Homo sapiens: one gene and its partner. The protein of the gene in region 2 interacts with the protein of the main gene of each other region in a biochemical or structural test. Each region holds a gene or a part of one and is shown on either strand. Other genes may lie near its edges.

The links.
Region 1: the proteins of ERBB2 (region 2) and CRKL form a complex in vitro, tested with the Homo sapiens proteins (2 studies listed by BioGRID and IntAct, with this or other methods).

Annotation. Positions count from the first base shown.
Region 1 is NC_000022.11:20,915,326-20,919,070, reverse strand, and holds the start of CRKL (crk-like protein), read right to left. Parts: upstream 1,665-3,745; 5' UTR 1,137-1,664; coding exon 826-1,136; intron 1-825. UniProt on the Homo sapiens protein: May mediate the transduction of intracellular signals.
Region 2 is NC_000017.11:39,710,059-39,713,803, reverse strand, and holds part of ERBB2 (receptor tyrosine-protein kinase erbB-2 isoform a precursor), read right to left. Parts: intron 3,719-3,745; coding exon 3,603-3,718; intron 3,465-3,602; coding exon 3,323-3,464; intron 1,877-3,322; coding exon 1,757-1,876; intron 1,483-1,756; coding exon 1,356-1,482; intron 652-1,355; coding exon of another isoform or gene 535-651; intron 1-534. UniProt on the Homo sapiens protein: Protein tyrosine kinase that is part of several cell surface receptor complexes, but that apparently needs a coreceptor for ligand binding. Essential component of a neuregulin-receptor complex, although neuregulins do not interact with it alone.

The sequences.
Region 1 (3,745 bases), on a different chromosome or scaffold from region 2:
TCCTGGAGTTCTTAACCTGGAGTTCAGAGATCTGGAGGGAGTACAAGCACCCGGGATGGTGTGCAAACTTGTGTGTACGTGCCTTTGGCGGGGAGGGGTGGGGGTGGGGGTGGGGGTGGGGTGGTGAGTGCTCGGCTATCTTCAGATTCTCAAAGAAGTCTATGGCTTAAAAACGGTTTTTGGCCGGGTGTGGTGGCTCACGCCTGTAATCCCAGCATTTTGGGAGACCGAGGCAGGCGGATCACGAGGGCAAGAGATCGAGACCATCCAGGCCAACATGGTGAAACACCGTCTCTACTAAAAATACAAAAATTAGCTGGGTGTGGTGGCGTGAGCCAGTAGTCCCAGCTACTCGGGAGGCTAAGGCAGGAGAATCGCTTGAACCCGGGAGGCGGAGGTTGCAGTGAGCCGAGATCGCACCACTGCACTCCAGCCTGGCGACACAGCGAGACTCCGTCTCAAAAAAAAAAAAAAAAAAGAGGTTTTTAGAAAAACCAACAAATCCCTGCATCAGTATTACACCCAGAGAAAGTCACGAAAGGCAAAAAGCGTGCATTTTAACTATGCAACCACCGTTAAACATTCAAAACGCATCCTCTTCACATTGAGAAACAGCCTCGTGAGAGGGAAAAAAAAAAAACGCATCCTCTTATCCAGTGACCCAGATCCTGACACTAGCTTTCTGTTAGGAAGGCCTTCTGGAAAATAATTTGGTTCAGAATGCGGGGAATATGGGTTCAAGCGCGCCCCACCCCCCTATACAAGCACTCTTCGACAGACCCGGTTCTCGACCTTCCTCCGCGGTCGGGGAGGGCTCTCGCGTACCTGGGCGCAGGCTCGATGAGGGTGGTGGTGTCCAGGTAGTGGATCTTGTAAAACTCCAGCAGGGCCGGCAAATGGTCAAATTCCTGGTCCCCGATCTTAAAACGGCGGTTGGGCAGCGAGTTGATGATGTAGTGGGAGACCCGCGAGTTCTCGGACACCGACAGCACATAGTCCCCAGGGCAGGTGGAAGAATCGCGGACGAGGAACATACCGTGGCGCTGGCCCTGGAGCCGGGTCTGCGCCTCCTGGCGAGACACCGGCCCCATATACCAGGCGGAGCGGTCCGAGGAGTCGAACCTGGCGGAGGACATGGTGTTGGACCGGGGACTCTGCGGCGGTAGGGGCGGCGGCTGTCCTCGCCTGCTCTGCACGCCTTAGCCCGGCAGACGGCTTTGGGGCCGAGGAAGGGCCTCTCGCACACCTCGAGGAGCGCTCAGAGGGCTGGGCCAGCACTTTCCTCTCGGCTCCGGGCCCGCAGCATCCTCCGACGCCGCCCGCCTGCTCCGGGGCCGCCACACGGAGAGAGCCGCCCGGGAATGCACGGCAGAGCCGGGGGGTCGGGGCAGGCAAACCCGAGCCGCAGCGGAGGCCACCCCGGGGTTCTCGGGCTGCTCGGCGTCCCAGGGGTGCCTCCAGTGACTCCCGGCCTGGAACGCGCCGGCGCCGCAGCTCGACGGGTCTTCACCGACCCCCGCCGTCACACGAGGCACCGAACTCGAAGGAGCGTCGCGCCTCCGGGGTGCTTTTGCCCAGCTTGTTCCCAATAGCCACAGCAACAAAATGGCGGACGCGGGAGAAGCGGCAGCCACCTCCCCCTCCGCTCAGCGCGCTCCGTCTGCGCACGCGCTGGGCCCCGGCTCCCGGCGGCCGCCGGGGCCCTCCCGTTACGTCACACAGCGCAGCCAATCAGGAGCACCGTCGCGACGATCAGGGTGGGCGCTGGTCGCGCCCGCTCCCGCGTTCCAGGAGGAGGCTGAAGAGGCGCCGGCGGTAGGCACTCTCTTCCTGGGCCGCTGCGCGCCGCTGGGGGCGCTGCGGCTGCCGGGTCTCCCAGCGCTGGCAGGAAAACAGCTGGAGCCGAGAGGGAACCGCGTTTCGAAAACCTGCTTCTGGGAACAAAGCGTAACGTGCAGGCTGAATCGCGGGCCAGGGAGGCGTGGCACTGAGGCGACCTGGCCAGCCTAGGGGCCTGAGGGAGGTCAAGGACTGACAGGTCCCGATGGGCCGAGGTGGCCCAGTAAAAGGATGAGCCCAGGGGCAGATGTGACCACCAGATAGGTGACTGACTGAATGACTCAGTCCCCAGGTGGCCTGATAGGCTAAGGAAGCCCTAGTGGCTACGTGACCCGCTAAATGGAGTGAGAGGAGAGAGAAGGTGAGGGTTAGATTGACTCAATTAAGTGGTCAAGGAAGTCCACAAGTGGGTAACCTGGCTATCATGGGCTCTGAACTGCTGAAAGTAAAATACAAATGCCTCTCGGGCGTGGCCCCGAGGCTTCCCCTGCCCCGGATTATGCCTGCTTCTGCCTATTTATTAATCCCTATTTGTTTTTGTTTGTTTTCTTTCTTTCTTTCTTTCTTTCTTTCTTTCTTTCTTTCTTTCTTTCTTTTCTTTTTTCTTTTCTTTTCTTTCTCTCTCTCTCTCTCTTCCTTTCCTTTCCCTTTCCCTTTCCTTTCCCTTTCCCTTTCCTTTCCTTCTTTCGACGGAGTCTCGCTCTGTCACCAGGTTGGAGTGCAGGGGCGCGATCTCGGCTCACTGCAACCTCCGCCTCCCGGGTTCAAGCGATTCTCCTGCCTCAGCCTCCCGAGTAGCTGGGATTACAGCTGTCCGCCGCCATGCCCTGCTAATTTTTGTATTTTTAGTAGAAACGGGGTTTCACCATGTTGGCCAGGCTGGTCTCAAACTCCTGACCTCAGGTGATCTGCCTGCCTCAGCTTCCCAAAGTGCTAGGATTACAGGCGTGAGCCACCGTGCCCAGCCTGTTTGTTTTATTTTGTTTGTTTTTGAGACAGGTTCTCCTTCTGTCACCCAGGCTGGAGTGCAGTGGAACTATCATGGCTCACTGCAGCCTTGATTTCCCCATCTCAAGGGATCCTCCCACCTCAGCCTTCCGAGTAGTTGGGACTACAGGCTCGCGCTGCCATGCCCAGCTAATTTTTTTGATTTTTTTTTTTTTTTTTTTTTTTTTGAGACGGAGTCTCGCTCTGTCGCCCAGGCTGGAGTGCAGTGGCGGGATCTCGGCTCACTGCAAGCTCCGCCTCCCGGGTTCACGCCATTCTCCTGCCTCAGCCTCCCAAGTAGCTGGGACTACAGGCGCCCGCCACTACGCCCGGCTAATTTTTTGTATTTTTAGTAGAGACGGGGTTTCACCGTTTTAGCCGGGATGGTCTCGATCTCCTGACCTCGTGATCCGCCCGCCTCGGCCTCCCAAAGTGCTGGGATTACAGGCGTGAGCCACCGCGCCCGGCCTTTGATTTTTAATAGAGACGAAATCTCACCATGTTGCCCAGGCTCGTCTCAGACTTTTGAGCTCAAACAATCCTCCCCCTCAGCCAAGATGTGAGCCACCCCGCCCAGCTATGTATGAAACAAGTTAATATATGCAAAGTGCTTAGAATAGTACCTGGCACATAGTAAGCATCATATGAGTCTTCCATTATTATTATTCAGTCATTCCCTGGGCCTCTACCTCTATACCCTAAAACCCTGAGCATACACCCTCAGTGGGTGGGTGAGGGTGGAGAGAAAAATCTCCACTTTGTTTTCTAACTACTTTTCACTGTCAGATTTACCACTTCATAATCACCTGCTCCTTGCCCAGCCCTTTTTTTTTTTTTTTATTCTGATACGGACTCTAGCTCTGTAGCCCAGGCTGGAGGAGTGCAGTGGCGTGATCTCAGCTCACTGCAACCTCTGCCT
Region 2 (3,745 bases):
GATTACAGGTGTGCACCACGGCGCCTGACCCTTTTTTTTTTTTTTCTTTTTGAGACAGGGTCTCACTCTGTCGCCCAGGCTGGAGTGCAATAGCGAAATCTCAGCTCACTACAACCTCCACCTCCCGAGTTCATGCAATTCTCCTGCCTCAGCCTCCCAAGTAGCTGGGATGATAGGCGCATGCCAGGAAGCCTGGCTAATTTTTTATATTTTTTAGTAGAGATGGGGTTTCACCATGTTGGCCAGGCTGGTCTTGAACTCCTGACCTCAAGTGATCTGCCTGCCTCGGCCTCCCAAAGTGCTGGGATTACAGGCGTGAGCCACCGTGCCTGGCCCCAATTCATTTCTTATTGAAGTATAACTTATATACAATAAAATGCACCGGGTGTGGTGGCTCATGCCTGTAATCCCAGCACTTTGGGAGGCTGAGGTGGGCGGATCACGACGTCAAGAGATCGAGACCATCCTTGCCAACATGGTGAAACCCCATCTCTATTAAAAATACAAAAATTAGCTGGGCATGGTGGCACACACCTGTAGTCCCAGCTACTCAGGAGACTGAGGCAGGAGAATTGCTTGAATCCAGGAGGCAGAGGTTGCAGTGAGCCAAGATCGTACCACTGCACTCCAGCCTGCTGACAGAGTGAGACTCTATCTCAAAAAATAAAATGAAATAAATAAAATGCACAGACTCTTATCACACAGTTTGATGAGTTTTGACAAATGGATTCGCTCATGTATCCACTACCCCAATCACTATACAGAGCATTTCTATTACCCCAGAAATGTCCTTGTGTGCCTCCCTTTTGAAGCCCCCCACCCTGGGGCAACCACCGTTCTGATCTCTCCCACCACAGAGTGGTTTTTTCGGTTCAGAGCCTCACATAAAGGGGATCAGACAGTATGGAATCTTGTCTCTGGCTTCTTTTGCTCAATGTAATGTTTCTGAGATTCATTTATGTTGTATCGGTAGTTCATTTCCTTTGGTTGCTAAGTAGAACTTCACCAAATGGATACACTGCCACTTGTTTATTCCTTCACCTAGTGATGCACATTTGAGTTATTTCCAATTTGGGGATATTTTGAATAAAGCTGCTATGAACTCAAAGGGAATTTTACTTTATCTAGATGGTCTGACCTCCATACAAGTCCTTGTTCACGGATAGCATGTCATTTACAAAAATAATCACCCCCACCCACCAAAGGCCCTGCTCCTCTGGTCTCCCATCTGCTTTCTTTGCATTCTTGATCCCCCCACTTCTGTCTCCTGCCATCCCCAAGAGATGCTGCCACATCTGGATCCTCAGGACTCTGTCTGCCCTGACACTGTCTCAGGTCATCGTGCCCACTCTTACCCATCAAAGCTCTCCGGCAGAAATGCCAGGCTCCCAAAGATCTTCTTGCAGCCAGCAAACTCCTGGATATTGGCACTGGTAACTGCCCTCACCTCTCGCAAGTGCTCCATGCCCAGACCATAGCACACTGAGGAGGTGGGGGTGGGTGGGGAAGGGGCCGTCTCAGCCTTCATACCGGGACAGGTCAACAGCCACATGAGCATCAGGGTCCGGGCCCCTCCCCACACTGACAGGGGATATAGGGACACTTGTAGGGCTGAGGGGGGCCAGGGGTAGAGAGTAGAAGGCAGAGACTAGGTCCCAAGAGGGTCTGAGGAAGGATAGGACAGGGTGGGCTGGGCCAGGCTGCATGCGCAGAGGGACAGGAACTGCAGCTGGCCTCGGGGGCAGTGAGTGGGTACCTCGGGCACAGGGCTTGCTGCACTTCTCACACCGCTGTGTTCCATCCTCTGCTGTCACCTCTTGGTTGTGCAGGGGGCAGACGAGGGTGCAGGATCCCACGTCCGTAGAAAGGTAGTTGTCTAAGGAGATCAGGAACATGTAGCCACATACCCTGGCCCTTCGTGCACCACCATGAGCAGCATTACCGTGCCCAGGCACAAGAAGAATAATATCAACCAATACTTAAATGCCCTACCACGCATCAGCACCTGACATCCATTTACCCCTCACAACAACCAGACGGGATCAGCACTGTGAGATTCCCATTTTGCAAAAAGGGAGACCAAAGCAGAGAGTTCTGTAAATTATTCAAGGTCATTGTGCTAGTGAGTGGAGGAGCGAGGATTTGAACCCAAATGGTCTGGCTCTACATTTTGTCCTCTCCCTAACACAGTCAGCCAGGATCTGAAGGCCCACTCCTGTTCCTGTGAGAGGAGGAAAGAGGTTCCCCAGGTCTGAGCCCAGTCCATAAACGCCCATCAGTAAATAGGTGATCTGTTAAATAAAACTGAGCTAGGCCAGGCACGATGGCTCATGCCTGTAATCCCAGCACTTTGGGAGACCAAGGCGGGTGGATCACTTGAGGTCAGGAGTTCGAGACCAGCTTGGCCAACATAGTGAAACTCCGTCTCTACTAAAAATACAAAAATTACCCAGCCATGGTGGTGCATGCCTGTAGTTCCACCTACTCAAGAGTCTGAGGCACAAGAATTGCTTGAATGCGGAAGGCAGAGGTTGCAGTGAGCCAAAATTGCACCACTGCACTCCAGCCTGGGCAATGGAGCGAGACTCTGCCAAAAAAAAAAAAGTCCGGGTGCAGTGGCTCACGCCTGTAATCCCAGCACTTTCAGAGGCCGAGGCAGGTGGATCGCCTGAAGTCAGGAGTTCGAGACCAGTCTGGCCAACGTGGTGAAACCCTGTCTCTACTAAAAATACAAAATTTAGCGAGGCATGGTGGTGGGCGCCTGTAATCCCAGCTACTCAGGAGGCTGAGACACGAGAATAGCACGAACCTGGGAGGCGGAGGTTGCAGTGAGCCGAGATCGCGCCACTGCGATAGAGCTAACTAAATTCGGTCTCAAAAACAAAACGAAAGGTAAAACTGACCTCACCAGGCTATAGAATAAAAGCTAACATTTAGGAGCACTTAGTACATACCAGGCACCGTTCTAAGAGCTTTACAAATATTAACTCTTTCAAATGTTATAACCATCTTATGCAGTTGGGACTATTCTTGCCCCCATTTTACTGATGAGGAAACTGAGGCACAGCAAGAGGGTCACGTGCCTACTAATTGATAGAGCTGGGTTTCAAACCCAGGCAGTCTGGCTCCCAAGTCTGGGCTCTTAGCTGCCTCTCCTTACTGCCACCTGCTCCACAGCTGTTGAAAGAACAAGGCAGCTCGGCAGGAACTGTCATGACCAGCTCTCAAAGCAAGATGCAGACAGTGCTCCCCATATGCTCCCATTTACAGAAACAAACCTCCCCACCAAAATGAGAAAACTGTGTTTCTCCCTGGCACTCACAGGGACAGGCAGTCACACAGCTGGCGCCGAATGTATACCGGCCCTCGGGATTGGGCATGGACTCAAACGTGTCTGTGTTGTAGGTGACCAGGGCTGGGCAGTGCAGCTCACAGATGCCACTGTGGTTGAAGTGGAGGCAGGCCTGGGGGGACAGGTGGCTGGCTTTCACTGTGCTGTTTTGCCCTGGTGTGCCAGGGGCAATAGGGCAGTACCAGGCAGGGTGCCCACCCCTTGCATCCTGGGGGGTAGAGCACATTGGGCACAAAGCAGAGGCACATACCAGGCAGTCAGAGTGCTTGGGGCCCGTGCAGCCGGCAGCACACTGCTCATGGCAGCAGTCAGTGGGCAGTGGCCCCTTGCAGCGGGCACAGCCACCGGCACAGACAGTGCGCGTCACTGTTGGGCAAAGGGCAGGATGAGGGC